Regions from separate parts of the Homo sapiens genome. Here region 1 is linked to region 2. Evidence: fine-mapped expression QTL. A gene starts in region 2. The other region holds a variant in brackets. All regions are shown on one strand. Distances are between the middles of the regions.

Evidence for each region.
Region 1: its variant is fine-mapped to the expression of FAM124B in left ventricle (GTEx, PIP 0.96).

Annotation. Positions count from the first base shown.
Region 1 is chr2:223,722,154-223,731,391 of GRCh38, forward strand. No RefSeq gene overlaps it. Among named protein-coding and RNA genes, the nearest start is that of AP1S3, 110 kb to the right of the region's middle. RefSeq lists enhancers at 3,142-4,341, 4,037-4,704. The variant G/A (reference allele first, on the strand shown) is at 4,344.
Region 2 is chr2:224,398,422-224,407,659 of GRCh38, forward strand. FAM124B (family with sequence similarity 124 member B) reads right to left here and starts at 3,686. Exons shown (of 2, transcript NM_001122779.2): 1 at 2,616-3,686. The coding sequence starts at 3,347.

The sequences.
Region 1 (9,238 bases), 680 kb before region 2:
GCAACCTCCACCTCCCGGGTTCAAGCGATTCTCCCGCCTCAGCCTCCCGAGTAGCTGGGATTACAGGCACCCGCCACCCCGCCCAGCTAATTTTTGCATTTTTAGTAGAGACAGGGTTTCACCACGTTGGCCAAGCTGGGCTCGAAATCCTAACATCAGTTGATCCACCCACCTCAGCCTCCCGAAGTGCTGGGATTACAGGCATAAGCCACCACGCCCGGCCTGTTCACGCTATTAATACGTGTTAAGCAGGTACTGTACAGTCATCAACAGTGGCAGCCAACATTTGCTGAGTATGTGCCTTGCGCCAGGGATAACTTGCAGGGAGTGAGCTTTTTACAACAATTTCATGAGGCAGGTCTTTTTACTGCTGTCATTTTACTAATGAGAAGAGAGAGGAACAGAGAGGTCAAACAATTATTTTAGGTCAAATACCTAGCAAGTGGCAAAATTGGGCTATGAATCCAAGAAATCTGCTTCCAGAGTGTGAGAGCTTAATCACTGCTCCATAATTGCCTCTTTTAAGAAGGACAAAGCCCTCATTCACATGGAGGTCACAACTTACTTGGAAAGAAGCAAGAGATAGTGGAGATATAATAAACAAGTAAATAAATAAGATGGATAGTTTCAGTATGTGGTTAATTTTACAAACGAATTAAACAATGATATGATGCACAAGGACTGAGGGAGCCACAGAGACCGCTGCTTTAGAAAGGGTACCCAGAAATGCCTTCTCAGGGAAGGGACCTTAGGGCTGAGATCTAAGAGACAGAAAAGAAACAACTTCAGAAGAGGTAGAGCTAGGTGCGGTGGCTCACGCCTGTAATCCCAACACTTTGCGAGGCCGAGGTGGGTGGATTACCTGAGGTCAGGAGTTTGAGACCAGCCTGGTCAACATGGTGAAACCTCGGCTTTACTAAAAATACAAAAATTAGCTCAGTGTGGTGGCACACGCCTTAATCACAGCTACTTGGAGGCTGAGGCAGGAGAATTGCTTAACCCTGGAGGCGGAGGTTGCAGTGAGCTGAGATCACGCCATTGCATGCCAGCCTGGGTGACAAGAGCAAGACTCCATCTCAAAGTAAATAAATAAATAAATAAATTATTTTAGCTTCTCATGGATTTCATAATACTTATCTCTGAAAACATTTTGACTGTAAATTTAGGAATTAGGATGCAAGATCCCACATGTCCTCTAATCTAAAGTTGCATCGTTGGTCTGAAAATAGAGTTGAGCTTAGTGTTGACTACTTAGTATTGTTGCATGGACCAGTTGTTATGAAGACCAATAAATCATTGTTTTCTTATGTAAAATACAGATACATAATATTTTATAGGTAATATTTAATAAATTGCCTGAATAATTTTTTTTTTTTTTTTTTTAGATGGAGTCTCGCTCTGTCACCCAGCCTGGAGTGCAGTGGCGCCATCTCGGCTCACTGCAAGCTACGCCTCCCGGGTTCCCGCCATTCTCCTGCCTCACCCTCCCGAGTAGCTTGCTGGGACTACAGGCGCCCACCACCACGCCCGGCTAATTTTTTTGTATTTTTAGTAGAGACGGGGTTTCACCATGTTAGCCAGGATGGTCTGGATCTCCTGACCTCGTGATCCGCCCGCCTCGGCCTCCCAAAGTGCTGGGATTACAGGCGTGAGCCACCGCGCCCGGCTGCCTGAATAATTTTTTAAGAAGAATTTTATACGAACCTTCCTTTGCAGCATGCATACATCATAGTGAAGCGGTTTTGTTGTCTGTGGTAAATACCCGGGGTTTGTCCTGCCATGCCAGGAAAATTTAGGACACAGACACACATGAGGAGTTTAGGAGCAGAGGCTTAATAGGCAGAAGAAAGAGAAAGGAGAACAGTTCTCTCTCCAGTGAGAGAGAAGTGCTGCGGAGAGAAAAGACTGGTCGGCAGCAGAGTTCACTGGATTTTATAGGCAGGCTTGAGAAGGCAGTGTCTGATTTACATAGGGCTCACAGATTGGTTCGATCAGGTGTGATGTTTACATGGCATGCGGAGAAGGCTGGTCACCACCCCCATCCTGCCTATCTTATTATGCAAATGGGCTTTCAACTTGGCTGGTGCCATCTTGTCTGCTCCTTACTGTACACGTGGCTGGCAAAGGGAAGGGAAGATGAAGCTGCCATTTTGAACATGCCTAGTCCCAGATAGTGCTTTTCTACTGGGATTCATCCCTGCAATCTTCCAGCTTGCTTGTCTATGTCTGCAGCTTGATTTTACAAGCTGTTGTTTGTTAGAAAATGATTTGGGGCTGCTTTTCATTAAAAAGGAAAATCTTATCGAGGACTCCAGTACCCTCACTATCTGCCTAAGTAATTTCTTCTTAACTCCTATATCAATAGAAGTCAAGAGTAAAATAAGAGAGACTAGAGTGACTGCTGTCCACCCAGTGAGAAAGGAGCATGGTTTATTCTAGGGTATTCACAGTGGAAATAGAGAGAAAGAAACAGAGAAAGAATTTGTCTTAATACCAAATTGTATCTCATGGGGGATGAAAAGAACAGAGGATTCAAGGATGACGCCTAGACTTTTTGGCTTAGATAACTGTAAACGGTAGTCCCTCCTAAGGGAGACAAGGGAGGAGCATGCTTGAGGTGAAAGTCATGAGTTTGAGTTCGAATGTGAAGTTTGAAATACCTACCAGAACTTCACATAAAAGTGTAAAGCACAAAGTTATATATGTGAAGAAGGAGAAGGACTAGAGATAGAAATCTAATTAAGAGTCATGGACGTAGATCGTGTATAAAGCTGTGGAGATCGCCTAAGAGACGGAAAAGGGAAGAGGGCTCAGGCTGCAGTTGCTAGACTTCTCTGGCTAATTCACCATGCCTCTGTGCATCTCAGATTCCCTGTCAGTTCACTGCAGGCAAAGCAATAAGGATACATCCTGTCTCAGGCTGGAAGGATGTAGGACTCATACTCTTCCTTTTGCTTCATTCTTGTTTCCCTGCATTTCTGGCAGGTAAGGAGATATTTTTATTCTTTTCCCTAACAGATTCTCAAAAAAGATCAAATGATTGCTGAGGGCTTCCTGGAGCAAAAGAGACAATCATTCTTAGCTCACAGTTCAACTTTCCTTCCATTGAATCCCACACATGTACCCCTGCAGATAAAGCTTCAGAAAGGGCCTTATTCATTTTCCTTTCACAATGTTCATGATAGTAGGGCCAGCAATGTTACTAACCTCTTTATGTAAACCCAATAAATTTGATTTGACATTTGAGCATGGAGAAGTAAATAGGCACAAAACCTTATCTACCAGTCACATAATCGTATCTGAAAATTCAGTTTCAACACCAAGATTTAAGAGAACCCAGCAGATCTTTTCGTCAATGAATCCACAAGTATTTACCGGGTGCCCTTGGGGTGCCTGGTACTGGATGCAGCTGCTTTTGTGAGCAAGCCAGCAGGTTCTCTGCCATGAAAATAGAAATTTAATCACTTGTCCATCCAAGCATTTCCCTTCAGCTTTTCCAGGATGCTTTTTTGTGAATGACTAACAGAATAGCTGCTGCAAAGACAGCCTGCAAATTCCAGCCGGAGGCCCTGGGAGGAAAGATGACTCACCCACGCCTGACGTCAAAGCCTCCCTTTCTTTCAGAGGAGTAGGAAGAGAATGGCAATGGCCTGGGTAGAATGACCTAAATGCCCTCCTGAGTCCTGTGTGGGTCCTGCTTCCTCTTCCCCCACCTGGCAATGATGATTTCAAACCAAAGAAAGTTTAAACTGTCAAACTTGAACTTCACTGTCAAGTTAACTAAAAAACTAGAAACAGAAGCCTTCCTTCCTGTCAAACAATGTCAAATCCTTATTATGAGTTCTTTTTCACTGGAAAATATTGAAAGCATTTCTTTTTTTTCACAGAGTGTTTTATATTGATTTGCATCTTAGTCTGTTTGAGCTGCTATAATGAATACCATAGACTGGGTGGCTTCAACAACAAACATTTATTTCTCATCATTCTGCAGCCTGGCAAGTCTGAGATCAAGTTGCTGACAGATTTCGTGTCTGGTGAAAGCCCTCTTTCTGGTTGGCAAGTGGCTATCTTTTTGTTGTATCCTCACTTGACAGAGAAGGGGTTGGGAGGAAGGAGAGCACACTAATCTCTTTTTATAAAAAACACTAATCCCATCCTGGGGGCTCCATCCTCATGATCAACTCACTACCCGCCAGCGGTCCCACCTCCAACTACCATCACAGTGGAGGTTAGGGTTTCAATATATGAATTTGGGGTTGCATTCCATAACAATTTGCTTACAACATCTCAACAGTGGCTGAGCGTGGTGGCTCATGCCTGCAGTCCCAGCACTTTGGGAGGCC[G/A]AGGCGGGAGAATTATTTGAGCCCAGGAGTTTGAGACTGGCTTGGGCAACATAGTGACACTGTGCCTCAGAAAAGGAAAGAAAGAAAGAGAGAAAGAGAAAGGAAGGGAGAGAGAGAGAAAGAGAGAGAGGGAGAGAGAGGGAGGGGGGAGGGGAGGGGAGGGGAGGGGAGGGGAGGGGAGGGAAAATCTCAACAATGACCTTTTCCAGTCTGCCTTTCACATCAGGATTTCCAAGGACTTTCCCAGATTATGCAAAGGGCCATTTCACTGTTCACTGTGTTCGTTATTCAAACAGAGCTTCAGGTATGTCAGGGCACCCACGGGGTACCATCATCCAACAAAGCTCTGACATCCCTGTGCAAATAGTCAAATTTCAAATTTGTCCTTGGAAACTTTTTGGTTGTCACACAATTCAGCCCCCAGGTATTTGTCCTGGGGTCTCCCATGTAAGCTATTCTCTAATTTAGTAAGCCCCTGAGCAGTGTCATCGAATTCATTCTAAATCTTTCTCTTTTCAAGGAGCCTGGATAGCTAATTCACCAGCGAAACCTAAATTGTTTACGACCACCACAAATGGGCTATTTACCTCTGAAGTCCTGATGCAAGTCATATGTCTGGCTACTCCAGCACCTACTAATCACTCAGTTCTTTGAATTTTTATTGCATAAGAGTCCTTATCCCTCTTTTGGGCATTTTTGGATATATTAACTTTTCATTGCATCGTACAATTTGTTTTGCAGCTGTTGAGGGTGATAGATAAACTTACTTAATCACCATCTTAATTTTTGCTTTTGGTTTTTAACTCCGAGTACCCATCGCAATGCCCTAAACTAAAGGTTTACCCAGTAAGAGTTTATTAGGTTGAAATGAACTTACATTTTGGTAATTCTTGGAACTATAGTCTAATGGGATAAATTTAATGGTAGCATTTCAGACGTTATAGCAGATGAGCAGCAAAGATAATTTGAGATTACAAGGACTTTTGGAACCCCCAAACATAGCCACATATATGCTATTGATGTGGAATGCTGGCCCTAATTAGTTTGATGCTGGTCCTGCCCCAATTCAGGCCTCAGTGTAATATTATCACCCAAACTCACACAGGACTGTTCAGTAACAGGAAACCAATTATAAGGTACCAAATTAGAATGCGAGAAGGACTTGGCCTATGAACTCTTACACCAGCAGAGGGCACTTCCTTCTAGCATGCAAGTCGGCTAAGGAAAGCAAATTAGAATGAGAAGATGCCTGATGACTGCTGGATACGAGTTACACAGAGATATTTTCCAATAAGCTATGGAAAGCAAATGAATGGCCCTTTCCTTCTCTAGAAGGATAAATCTTTGCTCACTTGGAATTGGAATCCCAGTCCTTTGGGAAATGCTTAGAGTAAGCTGATAAATTCTTATTCTCTGACTCCCTTTCTAAAGTTTATATGAACCGGCCGGGCACGGTGGCTCACGCCTGTAATCCCAGCACTTTGGGAGGCCGAGGTGGGTGGATCACAAGGTCAGGAGTTCGAGACCAGCCTGGCCAAGATGGTGAAACCCCGTCTCTACTACAAATAAAAAATTAGCCGGGCGTGGTGGCAGGCGCCTGTAGTCCCAGCTACTCGGGAGGCTGAGGCAGGAGAATTCCTTGAACCTGGGAGGCGGAGGTTGCAGTGAGCCAAGATTGTGCCACTGCACTCTAGGCTGGGTGACAGAGCGAGACTTCATCTCAAAAAAAAAAAAAAAGTTTATATGAACCTACATCTTCTGAGTTCCACATTTTCATCTATTTCAAATCTCCTTGTCTTTCCCCATTGTCTTTAAGGGGACATCCCTGTACTGTTATTATTATCACTCATACTGAGACTCTGCCTGTTTTAATCCTGGGGAAAATTTCAATCAAGCGTTTGTCTGATAGCCTTTTAAGTCTTTCTGATATTCAACCCGGAGTCTCCCAAATTCGGGTGTACACCAAGAAAGTGAGGGATTTCTAGGAGTTCATGCTAAACAGATTCAAACTCCAGGCATCTACTGGGGGAAAAAAGGCGGTGTTATAAATAATTATTGTGGATCAGAAATAGACAGATTGTTCTTGGTTATTATAATACAGGGGATTATAATTTGGGTGCAGTAAATCCCCAGATGAAGCATGGGGTAAGTGTTGGAGGCATGCTGGCACTTCGATTTTAGTTCTGTGGAACTCAACTTGTGATGGTAGTAATAATAATCCCAATTACAAAAACTGAGGTACAGAGAAGTTAAATAACTTGAGTAATATCACAGCTTGTGATAAAGCTAAGATTTGAACTAAGTTCAGTCTGGCTCAGAAGTTTCTCTGCACTTCCCGCTGTTATCTTGGGCCCAAGTGTTGCTGCCTCTCAACTCCAGGAACCAGCAAACATATTTCCATGGACTAGCTGTTTGTTTTCGGTAGGTTTTTCATCTCTGTCAACAGTGGTTTTAAAGTAAAATAAGAAAAGTGAGAGTTATCTGCATGAAATATATCTTCAATTTTCTTGAATGTCTTTTCCTCTTGTGTATTTACTTCCTTATCCCATTCCTGAAATAAATCAAGTCAACTAAACTTTGCAACATAGTGTGTATAAGCTGATCTTCCTACCGCCTTGAATGAACTTTCATTTTCTGGCCCCACCATCTGTCCAACGTACTTCCCACTGTGCTTTCTCTCCTTCTTCTCTTCTCAGAGGTCTGAATGGCAATTCTTTAGGGCCCTCGTCTTAGTCCTGAAACTCCTCAGAGGCCGAGGCCACCCCTGGAAGGTTCCTGCTCCAAGTTTCTAGTTTCCAATAATCCCAACATCTTGCCTTTGTGTCCTAAAAGTGACAACTGCTTTATGCTGTCAATGCCTCTGTGATACATCAGGATTCCCTTTTAGCTATTTAAGTTCTCTATCCTGGGCCAGGCATGGTGGCTCATTCCTGTAGTTCCAGCAATTTGAGAGGTGAGATGAGAGGATTGCTTGAGGCTAGGAGTTCAAGACCAGCCTGGTCAACATAGCAAGACCTCATTTTTGCAAAAAAAATTTTTTTTTTCTTTTTGAGACAACGTCTCCAGCTCAGGCTTGAGCGCAGTGGCATGATCTTGGCTCACTGCAACCTCCGCCTCCTGGGTTCAAGCAATTCTCCTGCCTCAGCCTCCCCAGTAGCTGGGATTACAGGCGCCCACCACCACACCCGGCTAATTTTTGTATTTTTAGTAGAGACAGGGTTTCACCATGTTGGCCAGGCTGGTCTCGAACTCCTCTGACCTTAGGTGATCTGCCCACCTCAACCAAAATTTTTTTTTAATCCTTTATTCTGTTTAGCCAATTCTTTATATTAAATTCTGTTAAAATAACTGATATCTGTTTTTATGACAGGATCCTAACTATACAGTAATGGTTATAAGGAATTGGAATTCTCTGCCCTCCTCTGGCTCACATATGTCTTCCTAAGGCATCTGAAGTATGCGATATTCCCTGTTCATCTCAATCCAGTCAGCACAATGTCATCAATGCTGTGGACTAGCATGCTATTCTTTGGAATGTCAAAATAATCAAAATCGCTGCAGATACAATATGGCAGACAGTAAGAGAGCTGACATGGCCCTGTGCATACACTAAGAAAGTATACTCTTTGCCCTATCAGGAAAAAACAAACTCCTTCTGGCAGTCTTTGCAAATTGGTGTGGAGGAAATAGCATTTGCTGGGTCAATCACTTCATATCCAATTCCAGGGGCTACAAGGTTTTTATTAGTAAATGTAGTGTATCTGGAACAGATGCTACAACTGGATTCACCATCTGAGTAAGTTTATGAAAATCCACAGGCATTTTCTAACATCTGGCTTTCTTTTGCACAAGGCAAAGTAAATGTGAATATGACAAATGTCACCACCCCTGCATCTTACAAGTCTTCCAAAAGGACCTTGAGGTCCTTTTGGAAAAAGGCTTAGAGGAATACTTAGAGTATATACTTGTAACTGTGTGATGTGTGTGTGTGTGTGTTCAAATCAAACAATAATTCTATCTTATGAGAATCTACTATATATGGGGCATTGAGTAAAAAAAGAAAAGATCATGAGACAAGGAAGCTGCCCTCGAGTGATTTTTTGCTGGGAGTGATTGACAAGTAGAAGTAAGTGCAGACAGATAAATTGTAACACAATCATCAAGTGGCGTAATACAGTACAAAATTAAGTGGCAAGGAGCATTTTATATAGGAATGGCACAGGCCGGGCACAGTGGCTTAGGCCTGTAATCCCAGCACTATGGGAGGCTGAGGAGGTCGGATCACCTGAGGTCAGGAGTTCGAGACTAGCCTGACCAACATGGAGAAACCCTGTCTCTACTAAAAATATAAAAACTTAGCTGAGCATGGTGGCACATGCCTGTAATCCCAGCTACTCGGGAGGCTGAGGCAGGAGAATCTCTTGAACATGGGAGGCAGAGGTTGCGGTGAGCCACGATCGCACCATTGTACTCCCGCCTGGGCGACAAGAGCGAAACTCCGTCTCGGGAAAAAAAAAAAAAAAGAGTGGCACAGATTACATCTTAACACCATGAGTTTGAGCCTTCTCCCAAAGTTGGACAAAAGCTTTAAACTCCTCAAAGGCAGCCCAGTCTTGCTTTTACTACTTTGCCCTTTAGAATAGGGACTGACTTCAGTACCGACCTCAGACGAGAAGTTCACTGTCTGGTGATCTCATTACTGTCACAGATGCTGTTTCCACTCTTCTAATGAGGCTTCATTTAAACAAGAAATGGGCCTTCATTTGTTTAATGAGGCCCATTTAAACAAGAAGAAGGAGAAGGAAGAGAGGAAGAGGAAAGAAAAGAAGAAAGAAAATAAAGAGAAGGCTGAAAACAACAACAACAAAAAAACTCTGCTTTAAATGTCCTCTGCA
Region 2 (9,238 bases):
CCATTCAAAGAATCAAAAGCTATCTAGGAGCTACAATGTGTTGTCTTTGGATTATGGCTGAGCCTTTACACACTTTCCTCAGGCACTTTTATTATATGACACCAGAAGCAGAATTTTCCAGAAGGCGATCTCTCACTCTGTTTGCAAAAGCTTAGACTCATTGACTTAACAAGAGGAGATCAAAGCGTGTTTTGGAGTGAGGAAGCAGAAGTCTCTGAGGTTTGGAGGTCAGGACAAAGGTGATGTCCAAGGGGGCTATCAAGAGTGAGAGGCAGCTGGGCGTGGTAGCTCATGCCTATAATCCCAGCACTTTGGGAGGCTGAGGCAGGTGGTCACTTGAGGCCAGATGTTTGAGACCAGCCTGGGCAACATAGTGAAACCCCATCTCCACTAAAAATACAAAAATTAGCTGGGCATGTTGGCAGGCACCTGTAGTCTCAGCCACTTGGGAAAGCTGAGGCACAAGAATTGCTTGAACCCGGGAGGCAGAGGTTGCAGTGAGCTGAGATCACACCATTGCACTCCAGCCTGAGCAACAGAGAGAGACTCTGTCTCAAAAACAAAAGAGTGAGGGGCTGATGCCCCATTCACACCTGAGAAGTGGCCAGGCTCCTGGGACAATCCAGAGAGGAAGAGGGCTCTTTTCATACAATTCATGGAGTTTCTCTTTATCCAAAAAACTCTTCTACACTCCCCAAATGTGACTCAACTTTCCAAAGTAACTAAGTTGTTTAAACTGTGGTTCCATAGCAAAAATGTCAGTCAGCCTTAAAGACAGGAATGATTAAAATCATGTCCCTTGCTGCACACACACATTACATTTTTGTTTGACCATGAGGTTGATTTTAAGTACTAGAGAGTCGCTAAAACTGAAAGAAATTTTAGATGCCTTGGAAATTATGGGGTTTTATAATAGGCAACTAACAGAAACAGTGCCTGTCTACCTTATGTGAGCAAGAAGGTGAATAATTTAGAAATCATTTAATATGGAATATGATTCATGTTTTATTAACAAGTCAAAGTGATGACAACAAAATTAACCAAATGGAAAGACATCTCATCTTGTAGTCTCTTATTACTTTATTCAATAGGCCTTAAGGAGCTTCTGACCATTTCTTAAGGACAGAAGCCACAGGATATTTTGCTGTGAACATGACATTCATCCCCCTGCTTGCACATTTACACACATACACTGGACTGCAGCGGCTGACCACATGAACTTTGAGGGTAGATAGATACTTCCTATCTTGGGCAAATAACTGACCCCCTGGAAAGCTCAGTTTTCTTATCTCCAAAATGGGAAAAATAGTAACTTCATAGGTTGTTATAAGTATTAAATAAAATTATCAATTTAAGAGAATCCTTAGTATAGGGCATAATATGAACAATAATAGCTAAAATTGAGTTCTTGGCACTATCTTAATTATGTACTTTATAAGTGTCAGGTCATTTCCTGTAAGTAAGTATGAGAGAGGAAGATGCTAATTCTCGGGTGCCTTTATTGTGCTAATGAAGAAACTGAGGCCCACAGTCATACAGCTACTAAGTGCCCAGGCTCACATACCATGGAAAGGCAATGCACGGCAGCTATCATGACTAAATACACACATGCTATGTTAGGTTTTCGAGGATGGTTACAAAGGAAGGCTTTAATTTCAAGTTTTTTTAAGAAAGCATTCTATCTAACTTGGTATGTGGTAAAATTTGACAGTGATGCAAGATGCTTAAAAATTAAGTCAATACGAGTTGATGGGTGCAACAAACCAATATGGCACATGTATACCTGTGTAACAAACCTGCACTTTGTGCACATGTACCCCAGAACTTAAAGTATAATAATAAAGAATAAAAATTAAGTCAATAGTACTGCAAACTTAACATCCCTAAACAAGCTCGGCCAACATAGTGAGACCCCGTCTCTAGAAATAAAATAAAATAGCCAGACATGGCGGCACGTGCCTGTAGTCCCAGCTAATCAGGAGGCTAAGGCAGGAGGATCACTTGAACCCAGAAGGTGAAGACCTCAGGGAGCTATGATGGCACCACCGCACTCGAGTCTGGGCAACAGAGGAAGACTCCCATCTCTAAAAAATAAAAAAATTAAAAATTAAAAAAACCATATCTAAACATAAGTATGACTTCAACTTCCTTAAGTCAGATTAGAAGAGCTTGTGACATTCCTGAGCCCAAAGAGTAAACAAAGGATAGGGGTATAGTTGATGGGCATTTAAACGGCAAGCCTGAGAAAGGAGGCCGATTCTTTAATAGGATTCTGATCTTTATAGTAGAATCCTGTCTGATTCTACTATAAAGTACTTGTGTCAGCTGCAAATTCATGGAATCTGAACTTTCTTATCTGTCAGATGAGATTTTATGAGATCAGTGATTCTCAACCCTGTTACAGATTACAGTCATCCAAGAAGCTGTAAAAAAGTTACCTAGGCCTGGATGTTCCCAGAGATTCGGATCAAACTGCCCTGGGGTGGGAATTTATGAAAGACCCTAAGGGACGCTAATATGCAACCAAGTCTGAGAACCACTAGCTTAGGCCCATTCCGATGTAAAATTACACAGCTCCATGAGCCTCTACAAGATCTGAGACAAAACAGAAATACCTGAAGCAGAATCTTGTTGCCATCGTAGTCCTGAGTCTGCCACCTGGTGCTGCTGATAGGCATGCATGGATTGGGTAGCAGAGGCACTAACTGGCCGATCTCTTGAACCTTAAACTGCAGCACCGAAGACTCTTTGGGGTCCACTGACATTCCCGGGGGCAGCTGCTTCAGGGAGAGCTGCAGAGCAAAGCTCTTGGAGGCATAGAGCACGAAGAAACAAAAATTGCTCTTTTGCAAGGTCGCTTCTCTCTGCAGGATCATCTCGTAGAGTCTGATGGCGTCTTCATAGTTATCAAAACTGCAGTACAGCGTCACCCTCAGGATCTCGGAGCCACAGTGCACCTGCCTCACCCCCCAGATGGGCAGCTGACTGTCCAGGCTGTAGAACTCCTGATTGGCAAAAAAGTAGGGACACAGCCTTCCCCGAGTGTCCTGGGTGGGGTAGCACTGCCATGGCGAATGCTGGAGAGAGTCCAGGACGCGAAATAGCCTATCCTCTCCCGGGCTTTCGTGCAGGAAGAGCAACACGGACATCCCTGGAAACCGGGACCGCTTGGAATGGGACTTTTCACAGTATTTCACAGGACTGGCCCGTTCAGACACCTGAAAGAGCCGGACCTCTGGGCAAATGCAATCCAGGAGCTGGTCCAGAGTCCTCTGCAGAAGGGAGCCGTGCCCAGAGTTGGCAAGAAGATGGACAGTCATGGCCAGAGGCCCCTGTGTCTCATCCATGGAGGAACTGCCTGAGGCTGACAAAGACAGCGTGTGTAGAAGGCCCACTGTTCAAGTTTCTGAAATGAATGAAGAAGCGGCCCAGCCTTCAGCCCGCCTGAAAACCTTCAGCTGCAGCGGCTACTTCTGAGCAGAGCTCTTAACCAGACTAACACGTGCTCCTGGCCACCCGTGGACTTACGGCAAGAGAAGCTCACACCAGCTCGGGTTCAGCAGCCTCCCTCTCCACACAGCAGCAGCGGGGTCACGTCATCCAGCTTGTGCATAATGTAACTGCTTGTGTTTAGCCTTTTCAGGCGTTCCCCAGGGTTTCTGCGTGACCTAAAAACCTATAATCCTGAGAAACACCCAAATGGGCGGCTCTTATAGACACTTAGTACAGGAAATGACCGGCCGAAAAGGAACATGAGTTGGCTCTGTTAGGCTGATAGCAATCTGTTTAGTTGAAAAGACATCCATTTTATCAACTTACAACGGGTTCTCATTTCCTACTTACGGTTTACAGTAGCCTGCTCCACCAATCTGAATACAATGACTTCTTGAAAACAATTCTCAAAACCTGACCCTTTGCCAGTTTTTTTTTTCCTTTGTCTCTTTATTTCATTTTGTTTCTGAACATTTTCTGCTAGGGCACGAAGAGAAGACTTTATCTAAATAATTTTGACTTCACTGAAAATTATTTGCTGTACCGAAAATTCTGAGTGTACTAAAAAGACATTGAGAAAATTAGTCTTCCTTTATTCACGCAAATTCTTTAGAAAGAGTGAGAGCTTTCCTATAATTGCTCATATAATTATAATAATAAATAATTATAATTAACAATTGTAATTATAATTTTTAGTGTCTAATGAGGATCTACTATGTACCAGTCATAAACTGTTCTAATTCTTAAAGTAATTAGTTTTGTTTTGTTTTGGAGATGGAGTCTTGCTCTGTCGCCCAGGCTGGAGTGCAGTGGCGTGATCTTGGCTCACTGCAACTTCCACCTCCCAGGTTCAAGAGATTCCCCTGCCTCAGCCTCCCCAGTACCTGGGATTATAAGTGCGCCAACACGCCCAGCTAATTTTTTTGTATTTTTAGTAGAGACTGGGTTTTGCCATGTTGGCCAGACTGGTCTCGAACTCCTGACCTCAGGTGATCTGCCCGCATTGGCCTCCCAAAGTGCTGGGATTACAGGCATGAGTCACCACACCTGGCCCTTAATGTAAATTAATTTAATCTTGCAACAAACCTATGAAGAAGAGATTACTAGCCCCAAATTACAGATGAAGAAACTGGGGCATAGAAAGGCTAGGTAACTTGCCCAAGGTCTCACAGCTAAGAAGTAGCTGAAGGATGATTTGAACCCAGGAACTTGCTGCACTGCCTCTCTGGGGCCTTGAAGTCCCAGCCTGGGTATTCTTCTTGTAAGGAAAAGATATAAAAGCAAGTTCTGGTTAAGGATCTAGATTTGCAGACTCTTGAGCTGTTGAATCTTAAACGGAATAATCTTCAATGAGAAAGTTGTCAAGCTCTAAACACTCACCCTAAATGTGTTCTAAATATTGATTTAAAAATTATTTGTGGCCACGCATAGTCGTCACGCCTTGATCCTAGTACTTTGGGAGGCCGAGGCGGGTGGATCACCTGAGGTCAGGAGTTCGAGACCAGCCTAGGCAACATGGCAAAACCCCGTCTGTACTAAAAACACAAAAATTAGCCGGGCAAAGTGGAGCATGCCTGTAATCCCAGCTACTCAGGAGGCTGAGGCACAAGAATCACTTGAATCCAGCAAGTGGAGGTTGCAGATCGCACTACTGCACTCCAGCCTGGGTGATAGAGCAAGACTCCGTCTCAGAAAATAAAAAATAATAAAAATAAATAAATAAATAAATATTTTTAAAAAATCATTTGCTCTCCTGATAGCTGTGCTCCTCAACAGGTATGAACAAGCACTTTTTCTAAACACAATTCTTTTTAAAAGAGGCAATTGGACCAGGCGAAGTGGCTCACAACTGTAATTTCAACACTTTGGGAGGCCAAAGCAGGACAATCGCTTGAGCCCAGGAGTTCCAGGCTGTGCTGACCTAAATTCATGCCACTGCACTCCAGCCTGGACAACAGAGCAAGACCCTGTCTCAAAGAAAAAAAATGTACTTCAAAAAGAGCTGTAAAAAATTAAAATAAAAGAGGCAAATTTATGAATCCTTATAATGAAACACAGTGTGACAATTTTTTACATTAAAAAATACTTTTGTGATGAAAAATATAACAACTTTATATATCTGGATTCCTTTAATAGTATAACAACCTAATTTAAAGTAAAATATTATTATCCAAGAAAAGGAGTTATTTCTATTCAGATTCACTATGTAAATCTAACGTACAATTCTAATCATTTGTGTTTCATAATTCCTGTACTTTTTGCATGGGAAAAATACATAAATACAATTTATAACAGAGGAATTGTTTCCTAGTTATTGTGAGCAGCTCAGTAATTAAATTCATCTTGTTTCAACTTTTAAAAAAATCATTAGAGGTTTTTTTTTTTGGCATTACAAATCTCAAGCTTTTTTAAAAAAAACTCGACAGCATTCATGTTATGCATTGGCATTGGAAGCAGATAACTATCTCATCTCTCAGTGTGAACACTCTCCCTTCCGCAACCCTTCCATTCACAGAGCTGATTGTACTTTAGACAAAACTATAGTTTTTGAAATAGGCTTTGAAATTCTGGAAATAACTCTAAAGATTTGAGGAGAAAAATTGTTCCCCTGAAACCACGATATTAACTCACAACATTTTGCACAAGGTAAGTATTAAAGCTCTTACATAGGAAAAGATTTTGTTTCTTGATATTATCTTCCATCTAATGCTGAAAATACACTTTTTTCCTGATGAGGTTGTCATTTCTTTCAGGATTGAAAAGATTTCATTAATCTGTTGGCAGCCAAAGTGCCAACAAATCCAAGGGGCAGGAGGCCAGGGAAGAGGGGGACCAGCCTCATTTCTGACTGGCTGTCTCTGTGATTATTTCCCCAGGAACAACGTGAAATACTGACTGACCTTCCCCAAACTGCCTCCACCTTTGGTCACTGCCTTCCACCCACAACAAATGCCAGATTCTCAGCTGTGCAGCACAACAGTGTTTTAGCATGGTGCTTCTGTTGAAGGCACAGACAAAAATACTAAGGGAAATCATCAGCTTTGACTCTCAGCACCCGGACAGCTGTCACTCCAATTCTCTATCTTATTTTTCTTAAACTTGGCAGGCAATGATGCCCAGGTTTCTGCAGTCATCAGCTCCTGGATGGCAGATGGTTGGTCCACTCCTCACAGCAAATGGAGAGGCTGGTGATGAGTCGCTCAAGCAAACCTAGAAAATCCGAGGCTCCATTGGAACCCATGAAAATCCTCGGGGATTTGTCCTTTCTACAAAATACAATGGGATGCATTATAACCTCGAGATTCCCACCCACCCCCAACCCAGGAAAACTCTGAGAAAAAGTTCCTTTCCATCTTTAATTTATAAAATATGTTTATCTCACATGTCAAGAGCCAGGCGTTGCACCAGGAGCAGAAGATAGAATCGTCACCATCCCCCACTTTGGAGGGGCACCCTAAATGATGCAGTCAGTGCCATGATAAAGGGTGCTGCAGGATGTATGGAGACCCCATGGGGAGACACTGAGTTAGACGAGGGGGCCAGGACTGTCACACACTGGTGCAACTGCAAGCAGTTCAAGGTGGCTGGAGTGGAGGTTCAATGAAGAGGAGGGTGGAAGGAAGCCAGGGGCCTGATCAGGAAGGGCCTTGCAGAACACTTTATTTGAATCTGACCAGAACCACCTAAAAGTCAGTATGAAAAGGGAAGTGATGCTTTGAGGAAGCCACGGACACAGCAAGATATGCAGTCAAAGGACAGGTTTGTTGGCTGGTTGGATGCAGGCAGAAAACCGTGGTGGCTAGTCCAGGAGGCATTCCAGGGTGGTACTTGCAGATGTTTGGGTGAAGCTGTCAGTCACCAGATAAGGAATACTGGAAAGGAGGGCAGTTAGGAGTGAGGATGAGGAGGGCAGGGTGGTTGTGTTGTGCATGGATGCCCGTGGGATGGCCAGAGTTGAGATGTCCAGTGGCCTGTTCACTACAGCTTTGAAGGGAACAGTAAACCAGAGAATAGGAATTGGGGAACTGCTGGTCTTCAGGCAGCCATGGGAAAGGATGTGACTACCCAGAAAGAGAAGACACAACAAGGACAGAAGAAGGAAGAGGATAGGATTCCAGGAGTACCCAGTTTAAGAGACAAGCAATGTTTAAGTGGCACCCAGGGCAAAATGGAGAGTGGAGTGTGTTATGAGGACTTCAGAACATGGCTTTGGCTGGGCAGACAGCATCATTTAGTGTTTCAGGCTAACATTTGTGACTCATTTCCCCTTCTCAATTAGGCAAACTCAAAGAAGCAGCTGTCACCAAGCGAACCTCAGAGCCATTCAAGCCTCTGTTTTCCTCGTTCCCAAACAACCTTAACTCTGGTTCTTTGTGTGATACTCACTTGCTAACCAGGGGCGAGGCATTCTAGAACCTGGGGCACTACTTGGAGAAAAGGTGTGGAGAAGGGACCACATGGTGCTTATTTTTTTAACTCCTGACTGAAGCCTCTAACCCTGAACCTACAGCACAGGACTAAATGGATCTGTCATGAATGAAGGAATCTTGGCATCTCTTAAGGGATCAGAATCCCAGGGAGGCTGAGATACTTTCCCAACACCACACAATTGGTTATTGGCAGAGCCTGGATTTCTGGGTTTTAAACCATGCTCCCTCACCACTCCTAAGGGGACAATACCATGTAGCTATTCAGGTAAGAGTCATTTAGGCTCAGGACACATAAAAAGGAAAACCAAGATCCAAGGAGTAGGGATTATTCTCAGAGCCCTAACATTATTCCTGTCCCATGCTCTAGATGCCTCTTGTATTAGTGTACATTTTTATACTGCTACGAAGACATACCTAAGACAGGTAATTTATAAAGACAAAGAGGTTTAATTGACTCCCAGTTCCACATGGCTGGGGAGGCCTCACAATCATGGCAGAAGGCAAAGGAGGAGCAAAGGCATGTCTTACATGGTGGCAGGCAATAAAGCGTGTGCAGGGGAACTGCCCTTTATGAAACCATCAGATCTCGTGAGACTTATTCACTATCAAGAGAACAGCATGGGAAAAACCCACCCCTGTGATTCAATTACCTCCCACTGGGTGTCTTCCATGACACGAGGGGACTACAGGAGTTACAATTCAAGATGAGATTTGGGTGGGGACATGGCTAAATCATATCACTTCTGGTTAATGTGTGCTTCCCTATGATGGACACTCCTAAGCCAGTGCCATCCTTGTGCTCCGCCCTTCTCCCAACACACACACACACACACACACACACACACACACACACACACACCCAAAGGCCCTTGGGTCAGGGCTCCGGGCTTCTCCTGGGAGTTTTGGCAGAAACAGCACCAGACAAACAATGGAGGGCTGTGCATTCCCAAGGGCTCCTTCTAGGGCAGAGGTGGGAAAGGAGGAAGTGGCCACAGTAAGCGCCTTTTTCATGCTGCTGTGGCTCTTAGCTGAAAGCTTCTCTCCTAGTTTCCCAGAGGACGCCTCCTGCCCAGCCCCAAACAATGCTATCAGGTTCCTCTTAAATTGCCATCTGTTTCCCCCTTTTCCAGGACAATGCAGCCCAGTCTCAGCCTGTGAGCTGATACCCTGTGTTTTCACAGGTGCACACAAAGAAGGCATGTTTCCTCCTCACTCTTTGTTGTGGTCTTCTGCTGTGACTTTGTTTCCCGTGCCCTGGTCAGTTATAGTTCTCAGCTAAGGCAGAGAAGTCACGTGGAACATGCCATGAGTCAGAG